2 separate regions of the Homo sapiens genome follow, and region 1 is linked to region 2. The links come from fine-mapping of genetic effects on gene expression. Tissue or cell type: whole blood. Region 2 holds a variant in brackets; the other region holds the start of a gene. All regions are shown on one strand. Distances are between the middles of the regions.

Region 1 (8,110 bases), 310 kb before region 2:
ACCAGGTCATTGGCAGTGGAAAAAGAAGGCCTTCATGTTTAGGAAAAAATCAGGGGAGAAAAAGGGCTGGAAGAACTGGAGTACTTTTGTAATACTGCTTTGAGGATAAACAATATTCTATTAAAATACCTAGGACCATGGGTGTATAATCCCATCTATTAGGGAGGAGGAAATTTAAATATAAATGAGAAGGCTGAAAACGTAGGGTGTTGCCTCACTGTGGTCGTGTGTTGAAATGAAGAGCTGAAACTATGCAACCCTGTGTTTTGTGGAACCAACTGAACTTCTCAGGGAAACGCACTATATTCCAAACTTTTCTGAACTAAATAAACTGATACAAGTTACTCAAACCTAAGGCTTACAGGTTACTTCCCCTGTGCCCCCACCGAACAACCCACACACTTAGAGTTGGGGTTCAGTGGAGATAATTTTTGCTTATAATTAGAAAAAACAACAGATGTTTGAACAGTTTTGCACTGTTTGACAACCTTTGGAGATGAAAATGGAAAATGAAATTCTTTCATAGCTCTGTTGGGTCATAATTTTTGAAAAGGAACTGATGATATCTCCTTGTATACCTATAATTGTGACCTAGAGCATTCTCAGGACTGATCAGGGGATCAATAGTTGCCAGGAATTGCTCAATCAAAATTGCGGTAATTGAAAGCACAAAACAATCCTCTTTATTTACCTCTACTAACTTCTGGATTGAGATTTGTCCACACTAGGCTGTCATGATGCATCTACTACTGACTCAAGCATCACATCGGCACATTCTAGCTTATGGATTTTTCTTTTGATGCTGAAGCAAGTGATTCTTGATTTAAATCTCTAGGACATGGCAAAGACTAAAAACTGAGATAAATTCCTAAAATGATATGAAAAGAAATCTAAGATGTTTGAGGTCTTACCAATACCTAATAGTGTTTTAAAACTTAATTAAATTATGCTGACCAAATAAAGATTACACAAAACTGGTAAAGCAGAAATACATGGGTTTTAAAATTCTTCATTCTTTCTGGAAACAAAGAAACATAAAGGCTGAGAAACGGCTAATACATTTTTTCTCTTTTAAAACAGAAGTTAAAAATAAATTTTAAAAATTAAAGTAAAAGAGGCAATTTAAGTACCATATTAATTGGCACATTTCTTCCATTATTTCCCAAGATTTCGACTATACAGTGATGATATTGAGAGAATTATGTGTTTCTCTATTCTAATATACTTAATCCTCAGCAGACTTCATTATGTATTTCTTCAGAACAGACACTATCACTTTTAAATATTAGGACAAAGAGTTGAACAGGAAAAACACCTTGATTGTTTTGCACATTTTTATTCACATAGCAGTGCAGATATTTAACTTATCCTTCTGAGTCATAAGTGTTTGTATTTAACATTTCATCCGTTTCTGTCATTTCAGCAAATAACTAATACAAGAAAGAACTCCTTATGCATACTTCTAGAAATGTGCACGTTTCTTTTCTTAAAAATTGTCTGCCAGTAAAGAACTTTTATAACTCTACAACAAAAAGACAAATAACCCAATTAAAAAATAGCAAAGAACTTGAATAAATAGATATTTCTCCAAAGAAGAGAAACAAATGTCCAAAAAATACATGAAAATATGCTCATTGTCATTAGTCATGGGGAAAAATACAAATGAAAACCACAAGGAGACAGCACTTTACACCCACTAGACTGGCCATAAAAAACAAACAACAACGCATGCTCTCACTCATAGGTGGGAATTGAACAATGAGAACACTTGGACACAGGGTGGGGAACATTACACACTGGGGCCTGTCATCGGGTGGGGGGAGGAGGGAGGGATAGCATTAGGAGATATACCTAATGTAAATATGAGTTAACGGGTGCAGCACACCAACATGGCACATTTATACCTATGTAACAAACCTGCACGTTGTGCACATGTACCCTAGAACTTAAAGTATAATTTAAAAAAAGCAAATGACACAAAACTAAAACAAAAAATAAGTGTTGGTGAGGATGATGAGAAATTAGAATGCTAATACATTGCTTATGGGAAGGTAAAATGACACAACCACTGTGGAAAAGAGTTTGGTGATTCCTCAGTAAATTAAACATATGACCTAGACATTCTACTCATAGGTATATAAACAAAAAATTGAACATAAATGTTCAGACAAAAACCTGTACGTGAATGTTTATAGCAGCTCTGTTCACAATAGGCAAAAGGCAGAAAGAACCCAAAGGTCCATTAACAGATGAATGGATAAACAAAATGGAGGATATCCATACAATGGTATATTTTCAGCTATAAAAAAGAATGAAGTACTAATACATGCCATAACATAGATGAACCTTGAAAACATTATGCTAATAAAAGAAAACAGACACAAAAGGCCACATATTATATGGTTCCATTGATATGAAATATCCCAAACAGGCAAAACCGTAGAGACATAAAGGGAATTAATGGTTGCTTGGGGCTCGGGGGCAGTGAGAATGTGGAGAGACTAATGTGGGTATGTGGTTTCCGCCTCCGGTGATGAAAATATTCTGGAACCAGATAGTGGTGGTGGTTGCCTAACATGGTGAATGTAGTTAATGCTGCTGAATTGTTTTTTATTTGTAGCCATTTTATTTATTTATTTATTTTTTGAGACAGTCTTGCTTTATCACCCAGGCTGGAGTGCAGTGGTATGATCTTGGCTGTTTGCAACCTCTGCCTCCCGTGTTCCAATGATTCTCCTGCCGTGGCCTCTCTAGTAGCTGGGATTACGGGAATGCACCACCACTCCCAGCTAATTTTTGTATTTTTAGCAGAGACGGGGTTTCACTATGTTGTCCAGGCTGGTCTCGAACTCCTGGTCTCAAGTGATCCACCAGCCTCGGCCTCCCAAAGTGCTGGGATTGCAGTCGTGAGCTACCACGCCTGGCCTATTTGTAGCCATTTAAAATGCCTACGATGGTAAATTTTATGTTGTGTATTTTGTGTATTTTGCTCCAATAAAGACAAAATTTAAAAAAATGCCTAGTCAAAGAGTCAGGATATTATCCTTTTGGGAGGTCACATATACATATTTATACCACTGCTTTTCAAAAGGATCTTTTTATGATCAGGTGAAATGATGTCCTTTTGAGTGAATGACATACAGCAATTAAAAATGTGCATTAATACTGATTTGGGGCCAAACACGTAACTTATGTGGTTAGACTTCCCAGTCTTAAGTCTAGTGAAATCTCACAGACTATCAAGACCAAATGTTGTATTTCAAGTCACAGGTGTGGAGACAGGGTAGCGATCAAAGTACAGGTTTTCAGAGTTAAGTGGAATTCAGTGAATTCAAAGCCTAGCTTTTCTGATACCAGACATGGCACTTCAGAGAAGTTACAGTAACCTTGCAAGTCTGTTTCCTCACTAGTAAAAATGGAGATATATAATAATCTAATTGAAGGTGACATATGTATTAAGTGAGTTCATATATGAAAAGTGCTTAGCACTGGACTCAGCATATGGTAAATGTTCAGTAGGTTAGCTAGTTCTAAGACAGGCTTATAAACATACTTTTTCTAATGTACTCTTTAATAAGTTTTTGTGAGGAATTCACCTTCAGTTTGAAAGAAGTCCACTTATCTTGGTTGCCTTGGCAGGATTCTAATTGGGAGGGTGTCTTTTGGCATCCTGACTAGATTCTCATGCAGAGATGGTGATATTTTGGTTAAATGAAGTTAACAGTAAAGTGGTCATCTCTCTACTTCTGCTCTCAACCCCCATCTCAGCTTTCCCCAAGTATTCTGGAACCCTTTCTGAAGAAGAGGGCAGTTCTAACTTTCAGGGATGTTCTGGTGCCAGCTCAATATGCATCTCATTAATCTTATCAATAGTAACAAAGTATTTGAAGGGCAAAGAAAGATACGATTACTACCTATTTGAAGTTTATAAAGAAAGCCAGAAGAAAAAGAAAAAAAAGAGAACAAAAGATAAAGTAGGTCTTGTTTCTTCATCCACGCTCCAAATTACTGATTTCAAACTGCTCCAAGGACCCAAACTGTTCAGCAATGTGGGCTACACTTCCTCTGATATCCAGCCAACGCATAAAGAAGCTGACATAAAAACTCAAAGGAAATCATGACTCCTGCAAAACAAAAGACAAAGGGTGTACAAAGGATCATCATTCAAGTTGGAAACCTGCTTGATAGTCCCAGATCAGCACAAGGCTTTCCACATCTCCTTGACATTAGTCAGCTGGATGTCAGCTGTACTAAAGCAGTTTTGCCAAGGGGTGTGAAGAAAACACTTAAGTGTAAAACGTATTCCTTGATCCTCAAGGAGCTTACAACAGGGCTGGGGAGATTAGCCGTGTAACTGACACTCCAGGGCGGTCAATGAAACGTGTCACACGAGTTGGCAGGGGCCTTGAAGGAGAGGGATTTCACAGTTAAGGATCATTTGGGGCTGGGGGCTTGTCAAGGAAGGCTTTAAGAGGTGGGATGTAAGTGGCAGGCAGGGCTTTAGGTGGGCGGGAAATCCAGGCGATCCTGGCCAAGGACTCAGGCACAGGACGCTGGGATGGCCTGCCCGGCGGACCGGCCTTACCCTTTCGGGCCACGGCGCGTGCGTACCCCAAGGCTCGCGCTGGGCGCATTGCCCGCGGGAAGCCGGCCAGGACCAGAGAACACGGGACACCGCGGGCCAAGGCGGGAAAAGCCTCGCGCATGCGCGGTTCGGCGTTCCGGGCTCGCCGGGTTGGGGAAAGGGAGGTGGAGTTTCCAACAGGGAACTTGACCCGTTAGCAGCCGCAGCCATGGCGGCGCGTTCGCCTCCCTCACCGCACCCTTCGCCCCCAGCGCGACAGCTGGGCCCCAGGTCCCCACGTGTTGGGCGGGGAGCTGAAGTACACGCAATGCGCAGCGAGGCCTCGGGTTTTGCCGGCGCAGCGCGGGAGGTGGTCGCGGACGAAAGTGATAAAATCTGGGTGGGTGAAGAAGGGTCAGGGGGCCGGCGAGGGCCTGGGGGGGCAGCTCCGGCTCATGCTCCCCTCCTCAGCGCGCCCATGGGGTCCAGACGGCTAGAGGGCATCTCGGTAGAGGAGGCGATGGTGACCCGGACGCAGCTGCTGGAGGAAGAGCTGAGCAGCCTAAAGGAGGAGTTGGCCCTGTGTCAGGTATCGAGGAGTCTCGCAGTCCCCCTTTCCCCACCACAGCGGGGCCGGGACCCGTGGGGAGGCGCGCCTTTCTCCCTCTGCCTTGGGACCTACCCCGCCCAGCGACGCTCCCTGGCAGATGCACACCCTGCTTCGCTCGCGGCCGGGGGCTGGAGGGACGCGGCTGCGCCCGGCTCCCCAAACCCGGGCCCCTGCCCCTTTCCGAACTGCGGCCAGACAGGCTTCGCCTCCGCGCCCGGGTTTGGTTTTGGTCACTTGGATACTCGCAGTCGCATCCTCTCCGCTTCCCCCCCAAGCCCAAGTTCTTGGTGGTGACGGTAGCTGATACCTGCCGGGGGCCCAGGAGTGACATGCAGTCCACTAGTTGAAATGAACAGGAAAGTGTAAACACTTCGGTTAGAGTAAAATCCATCGATGAAGGAGCCTGTTTTTAAAATTTCAAACCCACACTTGGCTTTGTTTTTACCCAGTCAAACTTAAGTTGTAAACACAGACGAGTAACGTTTAGAAAGTCTCAGAGCCGGGAACTTAACAATAGATGATGCTTGGTACTTGTTTATTAACCAGCTATGGTAATTCCGCGGTCCTTGAGTGAGAAATCACATTTTCATGTGATCTTGCCAGTGAAAAACATTTGCTAAATCAATTGCATTAAAATTACTTTCCTGTTTGTAGAGTTTTTGTAAGGATGGACTTGACTATACTCATGTTCAAAGAGATTGAATTTTCCTTTAGTTTTGCATCCTTACCATCATCTCTTTTGATTTTACCAGAACCTTTAGATAGGGTTGGGAGATTGGATGTGGGAAACTCACTGAACAGTAGATCTTTAAGTCACTCTGTCTTCAACTTAGAAACCAATTAGGAGCTGCTGAACATCAAAGTAACTTTGTGAACAGTATCATCAGTTTAATAAAACAGTTCATGAAATTCATTCTCTGTCGCCCAGGCTGGAGTGCAGTGGTGCAGTCTCAGCTCACTGCAAGCTCCGCCTCCCGGGTTCACGCCATTCTCCAGCCTCAGCCTCCCGAATAGCTGGGACTACAGGTGTCCGCCACCACGCCTGGCTAATTTTTTGTATTTTTAGTAGAGATGGGGTTTCACCGTGTTAGCCAGGACAGTCTCGATCTCCTGACCTCGTGGTCCGCCAGCCTTGGCCTTCCAAAGTGCTGGGATTACAGAAATTCATTCTCTCATAGTTTGTTCTGTTGGATTCTTTTGCCCATTTTATAGGTCCTTGCTGACTGAGTGAAGGGTGTAAAAATGGGACCATCTTCAAATTGAATGTGCCTTTGGTTAAACAAGGTTGGGACATTTAATATGGTGCCCTCTTTTCGTTTTACCATTTTTCTGTTCTTCGTTGGATAAGGAGCAAAGGGATAAATAAATGACAACAATGAATTGAAGCATTTGTCATCTGCAGACCTCACCCTTTGGGGAGTTTTAAGATGTGAACCCATGATAAAGGCCTTTGATACTCTGAGTCCTAATCTAAGACACTCTTTGGCATATTTTCCGCACTCTTTCCTCCCACTTCTGCCTCCCCACATAGTTAGGCCTTTAGCTGGCTAAAGAGCTAAGATACTTTTTTATGACCGACTTGGTTAAGGAAGTCAGTCTATTGGAAACAGCCTGATGAACCTCTTCCCACAAATACTTACATTCTTTAAAAATGTGGCTCCAAACATGGTGTTGGCTTTTGTGACCTCGGACATATATAGACTAGGAAAATGATTGACATACTCTTGGCAAATGTAAGAATACAGAGATGGTCATAATAGTCTAGAATGATGATCTCTTAGATTTTGTAATATTAATACTCTTATATAATTGTAGGCAGTATCCCGCACCATAAAAATCTTAGTCAAATCAGACTCCTGCTCTTCGGGAATCTTGGGGAAAAATAGTAATTGAACTCCCAATTGTTTTGTAAAAAGCATTTAGGTGATTAAATATTCACTTTTATATCTTTTAAAGTATACTCTCCCGCTTATTTATTCAGCTAGAGATCACAGTACCCAAGAATACATAGCATTAAAACTGCTGAAAATTACAACTCGAAGTAAAATTTTGTATCTCAATCTAGTAAGTACACACATATACAAACATATATTTTCAGAAAGAATACATGCCCTAATACTGTGTGGGCTGATATTTTTTCAGTTCTATTCCTTTAAAAAATGCTGTCCAGATCTAAATTAATTTCAGAACCCAACAAGGCTTGAAACATACAGTTTAGGAAAAAGAACACTGCTAATTAGTCCATGGTCATAAGTAGTAGCTTCATTTAATTTGTTTTGCTTTCACATTCAACTTATGGGAATTCAGTGATGTGTGCTTGGTGAAGTTTGAGTAATTCCCCATACCATTCTACATCATTGGAATGCCTCAGAATAAGCATGTAATAGAAAGCAATCAAATGTTTCTCTTAATATCAGCATCTCATCCCACTCTAAGTGATTGTATTATCTAATTAAACTTTAAAAAAATATGGCCCCCTGATTAGCAACTGAACTATAAATAATGCTTATATGAAGAAAAAGTGATTAATTTCAATGAGGGAAGAAAAGCTATCTGTATTGGACTTACTGAGGGTAGTAGGTAAGCTTCCAAATGTAGCTTTTTCCTAAGGAATTTTTCAAGGGTGTTCCAAAGGGTAATTTTGCATCCATGGCATTTAATGCCCTATTTCACTAATTTAGAACCTAACTCCACTACACTTTTAATTTTGATTATATATTTCAAGAATGTGTTCTGTTTGTGATAAAGGATGCTGGGGCATGTGTATTTGTACATTTATCACCATTTATAGAGTGAGATGAGAAAAAAGTGTTATGTTTACATAGAAAGAGTAATATGTTTATATAGCATTTATAAAGCTTATTTTTTGGTATCAGGCAAAAATATTGACTAAACCTATAAGCCAGTTTTAGGAAAAAAATTAGGGTATTTAAATG
Region 2 (8,110 bases):
GTCTCAAACTCCTGACCTCAAGTGATTCACTCGCCTTGGCCTCTTAAAGTGCTGGGATTACAGGTGTAAGCCACCATGCCCAGCTAAACCAAACACTCTTAAACAACCAATGGGTTAAAGATGTCACAAAGAAAATTAGAAAATACCTTGAGACAAATGAAAATGAAAACATAACATACCTGAATTTATGGGCTGCAAGCATAAGCAGTTGTAAGAGGGAAGTTTATGTACTGTACACTTGAAAATTTGTTAAGAAAGTAGATCTCATGTTTTTTTACCACAATAAAAAAGGTAAAAATTTTCTGATAAAATTAAATATCTGTTCATGATAAAAATTATCTTAGCAAACTAGGACTAGCAGGGAACTTTCTTATTCTGTTAAAAGGTGTCTACCAAAAACCTGAAACAGTTCTGTTAAAAGGTGTCTACCAAAAACCTGAACTAGCCATCATACTTAAAGAAGTTAGATGCATTCTTTTTGAAATCAGGAAGAATACTTCTATGCCTGCTATCATTGTTTGTCTTTGATGTTGTACTTGAGTACCTAACCAGCACATTAATATAAGAGACAGAAGTGAAAGTTAAATATATTAGAAATGAAGAAACAAAACCATCATTAGTTCCCATGCATTATGCTTGTCTCCACAGAATCTGAAGACAAATTACTATAATTAGTAAGAGATTTCAGCAAGATTGCTGGATCAGTAATATACAAAGATAATAGGACTCATATTCACCAGCAATCAACAGAATATGCAATTTAAAAGAAAAATATTGTTTAAATAATAGCAGGTATTGTGTGGTATCTAGGAAGGGAAGTTGTATTACAATTTCAGGGATTGTTAAAATGTGAAATAGTGTCTTTAAATTGCTATATGGTTGAGGAGTCTATATGTGTATATATTCTAAAAGTATAAAGAAAGGTAAGGGAAAAATAAACAACAAAGTTATTCAGGATAGTGATTATTTCTGGTGGATCAGGAGAGACGTTCATAGCTTCAACTGTATTGGTAATATATTGTCTTAGTTGACTGGTTAACACATGGGCATTCATTGTATTTTTCTTTATATACCTATGGTATATTGAAATATTTCATTAAAAATGAAGAAGGAAATCTACTGATGTCATTAGCCCAGAGAAAGAATGCTGGAGGTGGAACAAATCTTTGCAGCAAGATCTTAAGTTTGGGGGAGTTATCTGCTATATGGGCAAAGAGGAGTCAGAGAAGGAGATCCAAAAGAACTGTACAGAGAATGTGGAGGAAAAATTGAGTACTTTAATAAAGAAACAAGGGAGAGAAAGTTTTTAACAAGAAAAAGAGAAGCTTTGGTCAACAGTGTCAGATCCCATAGAGGAACTGATAATAGAAAACTGAGAAGAGACTGTTGGACTTTACTAAGAAGACTGTATTAACAAGACTGTCTTGATAGCAAGTGATAGAAACAGACTTCAAACTAACATAAGAAAAAAAACACAAAATCAAAGGATGAACTGTAGATCATAGACTTGGTAAAGGTACAGAAAATTGCAGACAGACACTCTAATGTTTTTAACGCTTCTTTCTCACATCTCTTCATTCCAGACCAGACCAGCTTTCTCCATGCAGCTCTGGCCATGCGTATTGGCCATGTGGTAAGCCTACATTCTTATAGCTCTACCTCAGAGAAGGAAAGAACTTCTCTGCTTAAATTTGGGGAGCCACAGGAATACAAATACTTTGTCTGTATGTCATTTTGAGTTAGGATTTAGGTTATTTCATTATATGTTAATTGTCACCTACATGAGTAATTGACAGGAATTTCAGAGTCATGAGGGTACAGAGTAGTTTCTATTGGGCAGGACTGATTTATACATTGCAGTACTTATGTATTCTTTGCTGTCACCCACTTCAGTTGCCAATCATTGTGGCACTCAAAAGTGCCCCAACAAATTTCCAAAATACACACACATCTGGGTAGTATGTACTATTTGAGAACTACTGATTTAGAAGAAAAGCAGATCAACTGGCTTGATTAATAAAAATGGAAGAACACCTAGACTTACCCTCTTACTAAAGATCTACATGAATCATTGTCCTTGATGTAGCATAACTGCCTGAGAGTCAGGTATTTATTTGACTTTATTTATTGAGTGACCTACTTTGTTAGGTCAAGCCTTTTTACTTGAAAGAATATGATAAACAGAAAACAATTCTGAATAGAAAATGAAGGGAAGGCTGATGGTAGAAGTTCCTATGTGGAATTTTGTGTGTTGGAAAAAATAGCTTTTCAGTGAAATCTATGAGAAATACCTTGAATAATATAGTATAGGTCAAAACTTTGCAAATCTCTTTTTTCTATATAAAGGAAATTTCTACTCTATGCTATGAAAGACTTTTTTTGGTAATTTTTACATATGTTGGTCCTTAGTTTTTTAAAATCCCATTTTAAATGGTATCAGTAACTTTTTATTTTATCAAATCCAAAGATTTTTAAAAGTCCTTTCTAAAAATGTCCATTTTTCACTATCTTGAACCTTATGAAATTTATACAGGGAATAGAAAAAAACATTATTGCTTCTCTTGAGAATTTTTATAGGGTATATTTATAAATGATCAACATGATATGAATACTTAGTACTGCTGCTGTTAAATTTGTAATGAGTTGTAGGGTTTTGAAATTCCCTGACTGGCTTTCATCCAAGCACTTTATTTGCAAGACTTAGATACGGTACAACCAACGAGAGACATACAGTTAACTATTGACCCTGTGGGGAAAAGCAAGAGAGATCAGATTGTTACAGTGTCTGTGTAGAAAGAAGTAGACATAGGAGACTCCATTTTGTTCTGTACTAAGAAAAATTCTTCTGCCTTGAGATTCTGTTAATCTATAACCTTACCCCCAACCCCGTGCTCTCTGAAACATGTGCTGTGTCAACTCAGAGTTAAATGGATTAAGTGCGGTGCAAGATGTGCTTTGTTAAACAGATGCTTGAAGGCAGCATGCTCCTTGAGAGTCATCACCACTCCCTAATCTCAAGTACCCAGGGACACAAAAACTGCGGAAGGCCTCAGGGACCTCTGCCTAGGAAAGCCAGGTATTGTCCAAGGTTTCTCCCCATGTGATAGTCTGAAATATGGCCTCGTGGGAAGGGAAAGACCTGACCATCCCCCAGCCCGACACCCGTAAAGGGTCTGTGCTGAGGAGGATTAGTAAAAGAGGAAGGAACGCCTCTTGCAGTTGAGACAAGAGGAAGGCATCTGTCTCCTGCCTGTCCCTGGGCAATGGAATGTCCCGGTATAAAACCCGATTGTATGCTCCATCTACTGAGATAGGGAAAAACCGCCTTAGGGCTGGAGGTGGGACCTGCGGGCAGCAATACTGCTTTGTAAAGCATTGAGCTGTTTATGTGTATGCATATCTAAAAGCACAGCACTTAATCCTTTACATTGTCTATGATGCAAAGACCTTTGTTCACGTGTTTGTCTGCTGACCCTCTCCCCACAATTGTCTTGTGACCCTGACACATCCCCCTCTTCGAGAAACACCCACGAATGATGAATAAATACTAAGGGAACTCAGAGGCTGGCGGGATCCTCCATATGCTGAACGCTGGTTCCCCGGGTCCCCTTACTTCTTTCTCTGTACTTTGTCTCTGTGTCTTTTTCTTTCCTAAGTCTCTCGTTCCACCTTACGAGAAACACCCACAGGTGTGGAGGGGCAACCCACCCCTACAGACCCTATCATGAAAATATTTCCGTTTTTAAGTATTAAGATGTAATTCATATTTAGGATATATTTAAGAAACATATGTCTTTCGCTAGCTTGAATATATGAATTTGGAGCTGCAAATGATGATCTTTAGCCTTTGACTCTATAACCCCCAAAGTTGGTAATATTTAATTTAGATTAATGTGATAATGTAGTCTTCCTAAGAACTGATTCAAATGTAATTTAATGTTTATATTCATACTTTTCAGAGGCTTACTGAGAAATTCTTTATCTTATAAAATTTAAATTTCAGAAATATATCATGGTCTATTATAAATTTTTAGAAGTCAAAAATTATTCTAAGGAATACTGATGCCTCTCTTTTGAAGCTTATGTAGGAATTAAGTATTATGAGCAATTTAATACTATATATGGATATTGATTTCCTCTGGCTAGTCCACAAAGGCCTTTTAGAGCAATAAAATACCATAAAATAAGAAGTAATACTATTGTAATAGCACACCACAAGGACAAGAAAACAGTCAAATAAAAGTATTGAAATCTGATTTCTAGGAAAACCAAGTTTAATCAGAGATGAATCAGCAGTCTTCATGAGACTTCTGCAGATATTTCATAGTCTGTTTCTGATAACTCAGTCATTATAATTGTACTTTAAAAGTTATGGCCTCTTTTCATGTGTATGTCTTTAAAATTTATGAATGCGGTATTTCACATAGACTGCAGTCAAAGAATCTCTCATCCGCATTTACTCTGAGAGAAATTGCCTGGTGGGCAACTCACTGCCATCAGGGTCCCAGAGCTTCTCCCGCTGCGGTGTCAGCTACAGGAACCTTATCCCAGCTCAAAACTAGATGCTATCACATATCCTGTTGCCTGTCTGCACTCCCATAGGAAAGTAGTAATTAAGTTCCAACAGAGCCATGTTGCCAAGCCTAAAGACAATCCTGGTGCCATAAAACTGGCAGATACATTCAGCCAGCTCACGAATACACTTTGGGGCCCTCCCCATAGTTGAGGTTGCAGAGGTTTCCTGTGTTGAGAAAAAAGTGTTTGGAAAAGTTCTCCCAAACTGCCCTGGCTTGGCTTTAAACGTGTTGGCGTACACAGTTGCGGTCCGCTGGCC[C/T]AGCGTGCTTCTCCACCTAGGTGGTCGCCTGCACTCTGCTCCGGTGCTGTGCATGCTGAATCCTTGGACACTTGTTGGTCCCCCAAGGTGAAACTATCAGCAGGACTCACAGTTTATCACCATGGGTGCCAACATCCCACCTCAGAGAATTGCTGAAAAAACTGAATCAAATATGAGTGGTTTATTCAACTGAAGTTCAAAATCTTTGATGAAGCTTATATCCCTTGTAGTGTAGCCTGTCAGTTCCTGGTTAACTTTCAGCAAAACACATTTTCTTGGTAAGATGGAAGAATTCTGAAAATCGATGACCATGGCATGTGAAAGACATGATTTAAGTGAATGTCTGCCTTACTTTCAAACAGCAAATGATGCTGTCCTTAAGTGACAGCCCAGGTCTCGCCACATGCCTTTCCAATTGTTGGTGTGGCTGGTCTTTCATATGGGAAGACTGTACTTGGCTGATCATCTTCTGTTCATTTCCGGAAGTGAGCTCCAAGGGAACTGTTCAGTAACTTCATGTAAGTTTACAGATAAATTCCTTTTGAAGTTTCCGGGCCATGGTTTGAAGAAAGGCCATGGGAAGCGTCTTTTGTTCCATGGGAAAAATGAAAAGTCGCCTTTTCTGCATAACCTAGAAGATCAGGGAGTTTGAGGCCAAGTACCGTACTCCCTTCATTGTTTCCAACCATGGTGTTTTAACTGCCCATTAATTTCCTTAATTCAGTTACTTCAAAGGTAACATCTAACCCATTTGGAAATGCATTGTCACCTTGACATGTATCACTCAAAAAATTCACTTGTCTAAAAAATTCCTGGATGAAGAAATTTTTCACGGGCTTCATGAGAATTCCACATTACCTCAATGAGATTTTTAGCCTTAAAAACATCTCCAGTTTTACAAACGGTGATATTATCTTTATTTAGTCCATCCAAGCCCATAAAAATGGGCATGTTGAACAGCCAGATCTTTGTTTTTAAGAATTTCCTGTTTAGCTTCACTTTCACCTTCAGCAAATTCAGTTTCATTTTCTGATGCTCCAAAGCCAGATCCTCTTGGTGGAAGAGGCTCCAAACTCTGCGTGTACAATGTCCTCAGGCTTCCTTCTCCTGCTGCCACCTCATAGAGCTCCCCAGGCCTGACCAAGCCTTGGTTATGAGGGCAGGAGGCTGCCGTTCTTTACTTAGATACAGATAATGCTGTTAACATCACCCTGAAACATCAAGTATTATTTTTGTTGATCTGGCATGTTTATTTTTTTTCTTGGTTCTTTGAGTGGACATTCACTTAAAACATCTTTAAATTGGGATGGATTCTTTTCTTCTTACTGCCACTCAACTCCAGTAACAAAAAAATATTGACAAAGAGGGTGAAGGAAGAATATAATTAAAGTGGTGAATAGTAAATAGGACATGTGAGGAATAGCTATTTCTATGTTGAATTAACTGAATTTAAGCAGGAGAAGGAGAGTGAAAAAGAGGAGTTCCGAAAGACATTGCACAGTTTCTCCTTTAGGACATCAAATAGCGCTACCATCCTCTTTCTTTCCTATTGAGGAAAGGAGTCAGAATGGGTATGCATTGCAACCTCATAGTCATTAGTAAGCATGTCATATGTAAGTCTCGTGTTTAGGAGGGCTATGACTGAACTCATAATATTACCATATAAACATTGAGAAATTATGTTGGTAGTGAGGATGATGAATTATTCTGGATATACTTTTGGTTCCCATTATCTGTCCCAGTATTTAGTACCTGGTATTTAGTTTTCAAGAGAGCTTTTCTTCTACCATTAGGTATATCTCCCAGTGCTATCCCTCCCTCCTCCCCCCACCCCACAACAGTCCCCAGAGTGTGATGTTCCCCTTTCTGTGTCCATGTGATCTCATTGTTCAATTCCCACCTATGAGTGAGAACATGCGGTGTTTGGTTTTTTGTTCTTGCGATAGTTTACTGAGAATTAGTGGGTGCAGCGCACCAGCGTGGCACATGTATACATATGTAACTAACCTGCACAATGTGCACATGTACCCTAAAACTTAAAGTATAATAATAAAAGAAAAAAAAAAAGAGAGAGCTTTTCTTCTCGTAACTTAAACAGAAGATTTGAAATAACAACAAACCAACAGTCAAACTCTTTTTTCTGTGAATAGACAAATGTTTATTTTTCCCGTGAATACTTGAAAGTCAATTGTATTAGTTGACTTTCTAAATTTCACATATAACGTGTTTTTACTATCCATTATTTTCCCCATACTTGTGGGAACAGAAGTTTAAGTGATGTGGTTCAACAAATCCAATTAAAATGCGTTCATTTAGTTATTCAGATTATTTTGAAAGACACTACCTTGCTAATATCACATAGGTTAAAATTTGCTATAAAGGCATATAATGTTAAAACTATTCATATAAATTAAAAGTACTTGTTAAATGTTTTGAGTATTTTTGGTCTTTCAGAATTAAAAGTATTAGTAAACTGTTTTGAATAATTTGACACTTGAAATAATAGTGTTGATTTTCATTTTGAGAAATATTTAAACACAGTTACAAAATATTTAATTGGACATTAGCTAGAACTTGTGTTACAAAGTATAAGGGCATTGAATTAATTTAACTCCTTGTAAATGTTATTGAGAGTAGCGTATCTCTTATCCATATGCAGATATCCATATTTCTCTGATAGAACCTAATTTGAACACATCAAGACAGATTGGCATTTTCAGACCCATAAAAAAACTGCTTTGTTAATTGTAAACCATATTTAGTATGACCTTATAACAAAGTAGCACCTTAAGTGTCATGCTGTGTCTTTAATGTGCACACTGGAGCTGGGTTCATCTGTAGCAGACAACTACACTTCATGAAAAGAGTTTTTTTTTCTTGATAGGCAATTAGCAGTAATTAGGAAGATTCACCTCAATAAGATGTCAACATGAGATTGTTTAAAAAAGTTGAATGTCAGTGACTTAAAAAAGAAAGTTCCTCTGACACCTATGTATGGCATGTGAAACATGAAATGTTAATTTAACTTTTCTGCTTATTATTCATGCACAATATTATTTTGTCATTCAGACTCTGCACTGACAGAGTGTAAGGGTGTTAAAATAGTGTTGCTGGAATAAAAAGAGGATTAATCTACCATTGGCCAATTAGCCAAAAGGTACTTAATGGTCTCTAAAGGCTACTGAAGTCTAACTACTAGCAAAAGCATTGGTGAAAAGTCCTCTATATTACCTTCATTTGCTTGACATTTTGTGAAACATAGTGTAGCCCTTTCAT

The links. PIP is the estimated chance that this variant, and not a neighbour inherited with it, causes the effect.
Region 1: CNTLN starts here. The variant in region 2 is fine-mapped to the expression of CNTLN in whole blood (TOPMed, PIP above 0.99).

What each region holds. Positions count from the first base shown.
Region 1 is chr9:17,130,273-17,138,382 of GRCh38, forward strand. It overlaps CNTLN (centlein), which reads left to right and starts at 4,768. Exons shown (of 26, transcript NM_017738.4): 1 at 4,768-5,153. The coding sequence starts at 4,794. RefSeq lists an enhancer at 5,049-5,612.
Region 2 is chr9:17,442,614-17,450,723 of GRCh38, forward strand. The region is part of intron 18 of CNTLN (centlein); the gene reads left to right. It also overlaps the pseudogene SAMM50P1. Among named protein-coding and RNA genes, the nearest start is that of SH3GL2, 130 kb to the right of the region's middle. The variant C/T (reference allele first, on the strand shown) is at 4,835.